3 linked regions of the Homo sapiens genome follow. The protein of the gene in region 2 purifies or fractionates together with the protein of the main gene of each other region. This does not show direct contact. Each region holds a gene or a part of one and is shown on either strand. Other genes may lie near its edges. The genes, in order: SUCLA2, S100A16 and OXCT1.

What was found.
Region 1: the proteins of S100A16 (region 2) and SUCLA2 fractionate together in Homo sapiens (co-fractionation; one large-scale study listed by BioGRID). This does not show direct contact.
Region 3: the proteins of S100A16 (region 2) and OXCT1 fractionate together in Homo sapiens (co-fractionation; one large-scale study listed by BioGRID). This does not show direct contact.

What each region holds. Positions count from the first base shown.
Region 1 is NC_000013.11:47,984,196-47,987,847, reverse strand, and holds part of SUCLA2 (succinate--CoA ligase [ADP-forming] subunit beta, mitochondrial precursor), read left to right. Parts: intron 1-3,652. UniProt on the Homo sapiens protein: ATP-specific succinyl-CoA synthetase functions in the citric acid cycle (TCA), coupling the hydrolysis of succinyl-CoA to the synthesis of ATP and thus represents the only step of substrate-level phosphorylation in the TCA.
Region 2 is NC_000001.11:153,606,487-153,610,238, reverse strand, and holds the end of S100A16 (protein S100-A16), read left to right. Parts: intron 1-883; exon of another isoform or gene 884-1,340; intron 1,341-2,061; 5' UTR 2,062-2,087; coding exon 2,088-2,240; intron 2,241-2,520; exon of another isoform or gene 2,521-2,546; coding exon 2,547-2,705; 3' UTR 2,706-3,353; downstream 3,354-3,752. UniProt on the Homo sapiens protein: Calcium-binding protein. Binds one calcium ion per monomer. Can promote differentiation of adipocytes (in vitro). Overexpression in preadipocytes increases their proliferation, enhances adipogenesis and reduces insulin-stimulated glucose uptake.
Region 3 is NC_000005.10:41,807,841-41,811,492, forward strand, and holds part of OXCT1 (succinyl-CoA:3-ketoacid coenzyme A transferase 1, mitochondrial isoform 3 precursor), read right to left. Parts: intron 1-3,652. UniProt on the Homo sapiens protein: Key enzyme for ketone body catabolism.

The sequences.
Region 1 (3,652 bases), on a different chromosome or scaffold from region 2:
TTAACTAGCTTGTTTTTTGAAGCAACTGGGTATATATTTGAAAGCCCCAGTACGGATTTCATGTAGAACATTAATTGTGTAGAATTTAGAGTAACAAAAATTTTAAGAGTCATGAAAATAATTTTCTTATGTAGAACAACTTTTTTAAAAATAACAACTTTCTGTATTGTGATTTTTCTTATTTACAATTAAATCTATTAATGTTTGAATGATATGTCTTTTGCAACTTTTAATTTTTATAAGGAAGTATTTCTAAAGATATAACACTAGATGGTAGTAAAAATCCACTCAGAATATAAAATTAAGAAGCATTGTTTTATTCTTAAGTGATATTCTATGTGATAGAATTTAGTTTGTAAGTTATTTTAAAAATCCCATGACAGTAACCTCATATATTACCCAAAATTTACATAAATTATATTTTTACACATTCACTTATTTTCACTACATTTTATTTTTCTTTTCATTGACATTATATATCGGCATCTGTCATTTTGTTAGTTATGTTTTTACTTTTTGTTACAGTAGCCAGAAACAAGGTATAAATACCTGGATGAATTGAGATAGGAGTTCTATCCATAGTAATTCATCTTTATTGTAGTAAAGGTAGGATACTGAATATGTATTATTAAAGATATGTTTAAGGCATTTGGGAAAAGGATCAAATTTGAGTTCATCTTATGAACTTGAATTTCCTGACAACTATTTAGGTCTTGTTGAGGATAAAATGTTTTTATTTTAATACTTGCTTACTAATAATACGTGGTTATAATTCAGGTTAAAAATACTGTAGTACCAGTAAAACTGTTTGACCGAAGACATTATAAATTCTTTGATATTATCACATTAGACCAATGTAGAGTTGGTTGGTGTTACTTTTTGGGGTATAGCCATGTTTTTGGGAATCCCTGTGGACAGATCTCTGTTGAACAACAAAAATTAGTCACCTATTTAAACTACAAAGAGCACTTGTGATTGAGTTAATGTCCCATGCATGGGAATTAACTAATCATTAGAAATTGCTTTTGTTAAAATGGGGAAAGGATTTCCTATTTAATAAATGGTGCTGGGAGAACAGGCTAGCCATGCAGAAAATTGAAACTGAACCCCTTCCCTACACCATATACAAAAGTTAACTCAAGATGGATTAAAGACTTAAATGTAAAACTCAAAACTATAAAAACTCTAGAAGGAAATCTAGGTAATACCATTCATTCAGGACATAGGCGCGGGCAAAGATTCATGATGAAAACGCCAAAAGCAATTGCAACAAAAGCAAAAATTGACAAATGGGATCTAATTAAGCTAAAGAGCTTCTGCACAGCAAAGGAAACTATCATCATAGTGAACACACAACCTGCAGAATGGGAGTAGATTTTTGCAATCTATCCTTCCGACAAAGGTCTAATATCCAAAGTTTATGAGAAACTTAAAACAAATTTTCAAGAAAAAAAGCAAACAACCCCATTAAAAAGGGGGCAAAGTACATGAACAGACACTTCTCAAAAGAAGACACAGGCTGGGTGTGGTGGCTCACGCCTGTAATCCCAGCACTTTGGGAGGCCGAGGTGGACGAATTACCTGAGGTGAGGAGTTTGAGACCAGCATGGCCAACAAGGTGAAACCCTGTCTCTACTAAAAATAAAAAAATTAGTTGGGCATGGTGGTGAGTTCCTGTAATCCCAGCTACTTGGGAGGCTGAGGCAGGAGAATGGCTTGAATCTGGGAGGTGGAGGTTGCAGTGAGCCGAGGTTGTGCTACTGCACTCCCGTCTGGGCGACAGAGTAAGAATCCGTTTCAAAAAAAAAAAAAAAAAAACTATACATATGGCCAACACACATGTGATTAAAAAGCTCATCACTGATCTTTAGAGAAAAGCAAATCAAAACCACAATGAGATACCATCTCATGCCACTCAGGTGGCTATCATTAAAAAGTCAAAAAACAACAGATGCTGGTGAGGTTTTGCAGAAAAAGGAATGCCTTTACAGTGTTGACGGGAGTGTAAATTAGTTCAACCATTGTGGAAGACAGTGTGGCAATTCCTCAAAGACCTAGAGGCAGAAATACTATTTGACCCAGCAATCCCACTACTGGGTATATACCCAAAAGAATATAAATCATTCTGTTATAAAGATACATGCATCGGTATGTTCACTGCAGCACTGTTCACAATAGCAAAGACATGGAATCAACCTAAACATCCACCGATGATAGACTGGATAAGAAAATGTGGTACATATACACCATGGAATACTCTGCAGCCATAAAAAAGGAATGAGATTATGTCCTTTGCAGGGATATGGATGGAGTTGGAAGCCATTATCCTCAGCAAACTAATGCAGGAGCAGAAAACCAAACACCGTGTGTTTTCACTTAAAAGTGGGAACTGAATGATGAGAACACATGGACACAAGGTGGGGATCAACACACACTGGGGCCTGTCGGGGTGGGGGTGGAGGGAGGGAGAGCATCAGAAAGAATAGCTAGTGAATGTTGGGCTTAATACCTGGGTGATGGGATGATCTGTACAGCACACCACCATGGCACATGTTTACCTATGTAACAAACCTACACATCCTGGACATGTACACCTCAACTTAAAAGTTGAAGAGAAAAAAAAAGAATAAGCAAAGCAAAACTAAAACAAAACAGAAAACAATTACTTCTATTACTGACTTGTTTTTAGGAGATGTATCATAGGTTCTACTGGTCTTTAGTACCTTTCACATCCTGATTCCGGGAGGTAACTTCTATGGGGTTGGCTTGCCAGAAAGTGAATTCAAGTACCTACTCTCTGTGTGATACCTTTGTTAAATTAGATTTCTTAACATTTGCCTAGTGCCTGTTGGGTACTTTTGGTCTGAGTCAAGTCTATTTAATAAATCACATTTACTACTTTTATTTTTCTGGTAAAACAACTGCAGTCTTCTGCAAATGAGTGGGACATTTTCCTGTGTCAATTTTTGACTTTACCTGAAATAGTTATAAAATGTGCTTAAGAATTCTAATTTTACTTCGTGTGATTTTTTTTAAATACACATCTTTATTTTTTATTTTTATTTTTAATTTTTTTGAGAGTCTTGCTCTGTCGCCCAGGCTGGAGTGCAGTGGTGCCATCTCTGCTCACTGCAACCTCCGCCTCCCAAGTTCAAGTGATTCCCCTGCCTCAGCCTTCCAAGTAGCTGGGATTACAGGTGCATTCCACGATGCCCTGCTACAGATCTTTATTATATCATGTGGCTGCTTTCTCATTTAAGCCTTTTACATTTAAGCCTATTTTAAGGCAAATTTAAAAAAATACCAACAAGAGAAGAAGAACTTAGGTTAAGAAAGTGAAAAGTAGGGCTGGGCGTGGTGGCTGACACCTGTAATCCCGACACTTTGGGAGGCTGAGGCGGGCGGATCATGAGGTCAGGAGATCGAGACCATCCTGGCTAACACAGTGAAACACTGTCTCTACTAAAAATACAAAAAAAACAAAAAATTAGCTGGGCGTGGTGGGGGGTGCCTGTAGTCCCAGCTACTCGGGAGGCTGAGGCAGGAGAATGGCATGAACTCAGGAGACGGAGCTTGCAGTGAGCCGAGATTGCACCACTGCACTCCAGCCTGGGTGACAGAGTGAGACTGTGTCAAAATAAAAAAAAAAAAA
Region 2 (3,752 bases):
GACTTGGCACAGTCCTTCCAGAAATGGGCACGGTTTTCAGAATCACCTGGAACACTGGTCATGAACCTGAGCCACCTCCAACCCAAGGGCAGCACAGCAGACAGACCACAGGTTGAACAATGGTCTTCCTCTTCAACTGTAAATGTTAAAGTGTTTGTATGAAAGTCTTGCAGCGGTATAGACAGGGAACCACGCAGTTACACACTTAAATAAAAGAATATGGAAAAGCGTGTGGCTTCCTGCCATCCTGGTACTCTGCTCCATCCTCCCAGCCAAGGACCAGAGGGTTTGGGCAGGCGGAGGAGGGAAGACAAGGGCAGGATTTCCCTTCAGAGAAGCCGCAGCCTGACTCTTCCTCTCAACTCTCCTTCCTTCTTGCTTCCTGGCCTGTTCCCTCCTGGTCCCACCCTTCCTTCAGAAGAGGCTTCATGAAAGAAAAAGCTTAAAAGGTGGTCAAGGACGTGCAATACCCGTTATCAGGGCTGGAAGGAGGTGGAATATTTATAGAACGTGTACCTTGAGCAAGGCACTGGACCAGGCAATGTGGGCTGGAGAGATGCAGAGATTAAAAGCAGGGGGTGGTGTATATCCAGGATTGAAAAAACTGTCCTAAAGTCTGAGTCCCGCCGCTTGGTTCAGAAAATACATTGGCCATGTGTAAGAAAAACTATGCTTGTCTCAAGGAACAAGACAGGACCCAGAAAGACACCGTGGCCTCACCAGTTAGTGGGCCCCAGCCAGTGCTAGCTGAGTGGTGATGACAGACACGTCTGTGGGAGTCAGGGAGGATGGCACCCAGTGCAGGGGTCAAGGCAGGCTTCCTTCGGAGGCGTGGCTTGGGCGGGGCGAGAGTGATTGGCAGGCTGGCTGGAGAGGGCAGGGCAGCCGGCATGGGAGTAGGAATGGCCACAAGTGGCCAACGGAAAGCAGGTGGCAGGACAGGAGGCTGTGGTGGGGCCTGACCGAGCAGCCTTTCCTTCCAAATCTGACTGTGGCTTGCTCAGGCCCCTATGGTGGCTGTGACCCTGTTTTGTCCATCTCCTTTCACCAGGACCCGCCGGGTGAGGGTGACTGGAGCACATTCCTGGGCTTGGGGGTGGGAAGGGAGTCTGATTTGCCTGGGGTTGATGTGGGGGGGTTTTGGGCATGGGCCGTGACTCACAGAGTAGATCCAGATCCGCCTGCTCCCCTCATATCCTGTTATTCAGAAGGCTGTATCCGCTTAGAAAGTGTCTTTTGTCCTGGGGTGAGAGGGTGACGCATGTGCCCTCTGGCAGTCTGCTGCTGTGTCCAGAGTCCGACTCCAGCTGGGCTGTAACTGGGCTTGGCCCCCGCCTTAGGTAACGATGTGTGGGTGGGGGTGTTCTTGGGTCCTGCTGTGTATTTAGGGATGGGAATAAGGGAGGAGAGGCTAGCAGGGTGTGGCGGGGTGTGTTGGGAGAGCTGCACAAAATCTGATCCAATTGATCTGGACCTTGTCCTTTCCCATAAGGGGCAGCCAGGTTCTGAGACCCGGGACTCACTGTCCTGGAGCCCGGCAAGGGATTGGGGAAGGCCTACATCTTCCTTTCTGCTTTGTTGCCTGGGGCTGGGGTCTCAGCCAGTCCTGGGAGTGGGAGGCAGTAGCCTCTGCCCCTAACCTCCATGGCTCATCCCAGCTGTCCCAGCCATGCTTGGCCCCGGGAGAGGTGGGCCAGCTGTGGAGCAGGGTGGGAGAACAGGTGGACTCTTCTCTTCCCATGAGAGCCTCTTGCCCCGTAGGGCTCTGACACTAGGGATCTTGCTCCCTAGGGCTGGAACCTGGTGCCTGGGGCTGGGGCAGGGCCTGGAGAACCTGTTGAGGCGGTTGAGCTGGGGAGCACCTGGATTAGAGGAGCCGCATAGTTCTCATTCCAGGGCTCACTCTCCCCCACCCACTCTGTTCCCCTTTTCCTGCCACCTTCTTCTCCAGGGACCAGAAACAAGGCAGGAGGAGGGACCCAGGGCCTAGGGTGGGTGTGGAGGAGGAGGAGGTATGGCCTGTGGGTGTCTCTTCTCATCTCCCCTCCTCCTGGTGTCCAGGCCCCGCCAGCAGGCGAAGCAGGGAGATGTCAGACTGCTACACGGAGCTGGAGAAGGCAGTCATTGTCCTGGTGGAAAACTTCTACAAATATGTGTCTAAGTACAGCCTGGTCAAGAACAAGATCAGCAAGAGCAGCTTCCGCGAGATGCTCCAGAAAGAGCTGAACCACATGCTGTCGGTAAGGCCTCTCACCCAAGGGCCTTGCCTCCCTCTCCCCTTCCCTCCCCTGCAAGCCTCTGGCCTCTGAGGGTGTCTTTCCCTGCTGAGGCCTCTATCCTTCCAGTGTCCCCGCTAACTCCAGGGTCTTCTACACCCCCAGGCCTCTGTCTTCTCAGGATGCTTAGGCCTAGCCAGTGAGGGCTATATTTGCATTTCCCAAGGGAAGCAGCTGTGCAGGCCAGATCCTGGGTCTCTGCCTAGGGTCCTGCCTGGAGTCTCTCTGGGGCTTCCACCATCAGCATTGCTGACCCTGCTTCCTCCCCAGGACACAGGGAACCGGAAGGCTGCGGATAAGCTCATCCAGAACCTGGATGCCAATCATGATGGGCGCATCAGCTTCGATGAGTACTGGACCTTGATAGGCGGCATCACCGGCCCCATCGCCAAACTCATCCATGAGCAGGAGCAGCAGAGCAGCAGCTAGAGACCCCTTTGGCCACACCTTCCAGGCACTGGCCTGATGCCCCGCCCTGGTGCTCTCCCCAGGCTCCCTCCTCAGCCTCCTGCCCACCCAGGGCCCTTTACTCTCTTCTCCCTCCAGACCTTCCTCTGACCCTTGCTGAACTGGGGTCCCTTTGTGAGTGTCTCAGTCTAGAGGTACCTCCCTCCCTGGGGGGTCTCAGCTCCTGGAGTCGCAGGCCCTTGGGGCCCCTCTGTGAGATCTCAATGCTGTCTGGGGACCCTAAGAGTTTTCTCACCTGTTCAGTCTCATCTAACCTTCCAATGTCTGATGTTCCTGCCAAATTCCTGCCTGATTCTGGGTCCGTCCTGACCTCCAAAGGTCAGCTTGGTGCTTGAGGTCTCCCTGCTCTTGGTGGCAGTGGTAGCAGCAACAGCAGCAGCAGCAGCAGCAGCAGCAGCAGAGACCTCTCCACTTTCCCTTAGCCCCTCTGCTGGGTAGAGAGGCACTTTCAGGGACTTCCCTCCAGCTGCCTCTTCATCTGGGAATGAGCTAAGCAAGGCTGAGCCTCCTCCTGTTGCTTGAAATAATGATGATATAAAGGCTGGATTTGGAGTTTGTATCCCCTGGTCCCTCTGGGATGCTCATTAAAACCTTCCCACTCCTTGGAAACGTTTTATGCTTTGGTGGTCTTAGCCCTTGGGCCCTGTGATAAGAGAGAATCTCACAGAAGAACCTCAAAGGCAGAGCAAGAAAGGAGCCAGAACTCCTAAATTCCAACAGGCACTGTCAGCTGTGGGCCAGCAGCTCCCTCCATCCTCCTCCATAAAGGGCCAAAGGCCTTAGGTCACCATCTCTGGGCCCTTTTAGCCCAGACTCAGACTCAAATTCAACTTCCAGGCACACTGTAAGTCCCGTTTAGTCCTCACTGCAATTCCACGAGAGAGGGACCATGACCCTTAGTCTTTTTTTTTTTTTTTTTTTGGAGCGGAGAGTTTAATAGGCAAGAAGGGGCAAGACGGAAGGGAGAAGGAAGAAGCTCCCCTGTACAGAGACAGAGGGACGGAGGCC
Region 3 (3,652 bases), on a different chromosome or scaffold from region 2:
ACAAAAATCTGTAATAACATCTGCTTGGTCAATTGAAGAGCTTTTTAAATATAGATACAAATGCTATTTGTAACAGTTGTAAATTATTCTTGTTAGCTTCCTAGGATCGTGATACAACTGCAATTGCTGAAATAATTTACTTAAAGACAGATAATTAATTCCAATATGGAAACTTCAAAACTGAAATATTAATTAATAACTAGAAATACTCAATTTAATTAGAATCAAAGTCATTCACCAAGAATAAGGTCATATAGCAATATGAAATGCCTCCACATTAGTCTGTTATTTTAGAATTAATTTAAAAGACAATTTTTCTATCAACATAAAACAGTTCAAAAGAACAAGGATCAAGAAAAACTAAACTCAACATTGTTGTGGTGAAAGAATTAGCTTTCTGGTGACACGCACGCACACAAACATACACACCTTTAAGTTGTGAGTACTCAGCTTAACAGATACAGTGTCCAAAACAAACGTTTGCTTCCATGAACTGACTTATACAAGGATAGTAGTATTGATTTTTGTTTCCTAAACTAATCACTGAAATCTGGAAATCTGTGAGGTTAAGTAGCCCTTCTTATGCTGTTCTACTACTATATGCCTTCACTAGGCTCCTCCTACAGTGCAAGAATACCAGGGCTTACAGAAGACATTTTACTTATTGTGCAATGCTCACAAATAGCTGAAAAAGGCAAGGACATGGTGGATAAAAGCTATCTTCTTTGATAAACAGAAAAATCAAACAAAAATTCCAAGGAAAGGTCAGAAAATATGTCGGCATCCAAGTTGAACTACTGGGTAGAGAGGCATCTGGGGATGAGTGAGGAGACAGGGAAAGTGGGGCCGAAGACCCCTTGCCACTGCACTCTATGTCCTCCCCTTGAAAACTCTGTATGCTCCAGTATTTTCTATTCGAGGTGGAGGTGGGGAATGCAGAGCAGCTAAGCACTACTGCTACCTCTTCAACTGGTTGGAACTTTCAGCCATTAGGGCTCATTCACATCTTTCCATATTCAGTTTTAGCCTTCAAAGAAGTTCTTGACTTTAAAAATGTGTTTATACATTAATCCAGTATCCTGAGGATAGACATGAAGATTTATTATTCATGAAAACACTAATCACAAAATTTATTATAATAATGAATTGAAAACAACTTTAATGTCAGCAATAGGGAAATGGTCAAATAAACATGGTGTAGCCATGTGATTAATCAATATTATGCACTCATAATATTTAATGATCTCATAATTTCATGTTTCATAAAATGCAAGATTTTGTATAAGTAAATAAAAATTTATAGAAATGCACTTTGGGATAGACAATTATTTATATACCTACAGAAAATAAAAGGAAACACACGGAAATGCTAAGAATTGTTATCTCTGGGTAATAGTACAAGTGGTTTTTGTTTTCCTTTTACTTTTATAATCAAAACTGAAACCCACAATGTTATTTTTTCAGAAGATGTGATAAACACTAAGTTTCTAAAACTAGAAAATCATAAGTGGAGCATGTGATAAATCTCACAATTAGTTTGACATGTACCAAAGAGGGCATGTTAAAAAGAAAATAGAGAGTCTAAGAAAAACTGAAGTTTCTAAACCCTAAAAGCAGTCACATTATGAACTAAACTAAGCAAACCCTTCTTGCCTGCACATTTGAAAATAATAATGTGAATTATTTTTCATGCCTAATATTGCTCCAAAAGGTCAGGCCCTCAAATCTCTTGCTATGATTGTGACAGCAGCTTCCTTTGGTCTTCCTGCCTTACCCTCTAGCAGGGGCAAAGAACATAATAAAAAAGGAAGAAAAAAAAGTATTGCTCACTTAAACTGAAAATGCTGATGGAAACCCGCCACTATTTTCTTTTGGTTCCATCAAAGAATGTTTCAACAGAAAACACCAAATCAAGACAAAGCTTCATTACCAAGGACAATTATATCATAACTCTCAGAACTAACAGAATGAATATGTCCTGGTAAAACAACTCCGATAAGCAAGAATCTAGCTAAACATAAACAATTCCATGTTTTGTCATCCTAATATAAATGGCTTTCAGACTGTAGAAAATGCATGTGCAGCATTTGTCAAAATAACAACACTCAACAGTATTGAAAACGTCTATACAAAAATCAAAGCTTTCTCAGAGTTGGTTAGCAGAGTTAATAGCTAAGAAAGAAAATATTTGAAGTACAAACCAAAAGAAGAAAACATGTTTTCAGACAATCTATGAAAAGAGTTTAAAAAAAAAAATGAAGAGGCAGAACTATCTTAATGCTAGCTATTGAAGGGACTGACTTCAGTGCCAGTTTCGTGTGATCTTGAGAACAATAAGGAAGGAGCAATGGGAGGATTAAAAAGTCTAGTGAGATCAGGCGATTTAAACATAAGCGTTAATGGAAAACCTGATGAGAAAATGATGACTAAAATGAGCTGGTTAGGACAAACATAAAAATAAAAGATCCCTTACTAAAGATGGCAGAGTTTTCCTCCTGAAGTTAGAAATGGGTAATAAAGAATAAAGGACAAAGGAAAAGCCTCAGGGCAAAGCAATGGGCAGATGTAAGTATCCTCAGGCAAGATCAAGATGGAAGAGAGGTAGCTAAGAACAACCCGGACTTCTCCATGGCACTATGAATAGTTCTCATGCCCCACCACTTGCTACAACCAGAAATCCAGACGTTTGAGGCTTCTCTAATTGGTACTTGTCTTTAGTCATTAACAGAAAAATAGACACTAGGAAATGTTGTTATTGATCTGAACTTTGTTTTAAAAGATTGCTTTCTCTGCACTGCACTCTTCCTACTTTATAACTGAAAACTTATTTTAAAGCTTAGAGAAGGATAAGAATTCATCCCTTGGTGACAATGTGTTTGTGATTGCTTGGCAAACATTATATCTCAGGTAAGAGAAAAGAGGAGCTGCAAGGCAATAACGTCCTCATTTTTTATTTTATTTTAGTGACAACCTCAATCTGTTATAGACACAAAAATGGACCCAACCCTAAATGGTGTTAGCGAAAAATTATACACACCTGCAAAACTCTGTGTACGATACAAAGTAAGGGCTGTTGAGGGGGAGGAAGAGGGAGACTCACATTCCAGGCTTTCTTCCTGACTCATTTTAAGTTTCAAAAAAGTTTAGGAGGAAACTTCTTTTGCCAAAAAGAAAAGAAAAAAAACAGACAACAAGCAATAATGTCTAGAATCATGAGAAACATTAACTCCAAAAGAGAGGGAAAAAAAAAAAAAGCAGCTGTGGAAGTCTAGAAAAATAAAAGGGGGAGACAATAAGCAATAAGAGAAGTTACAAGTTAAATGCAGAGGTGCTCTGGATGTTAAAATGAAGTAAAATGAGTAAAATGAAGAGGAAATGTGAGTAAGACCTCACGTTCAATAGATAAATAGGATAACTATAGTTAAAAATCTATTGTACCTCTCAAAGTTGCTAGAAGAGAATAATTTGAATGTGCTTAGCATAAAGAATAGATAAATATGGTAATGAATATCCCAATTACCCTGATTTTACCTTTATGTTATACGAATATGTCAAATTATCACAGGTACCCTGAAAACATACAGGTCTATCATGTATCAAAAAAGAAATAATTTTTTAAACAAGAGGCAATGTAGAGAAAGAGGAGGTCAGC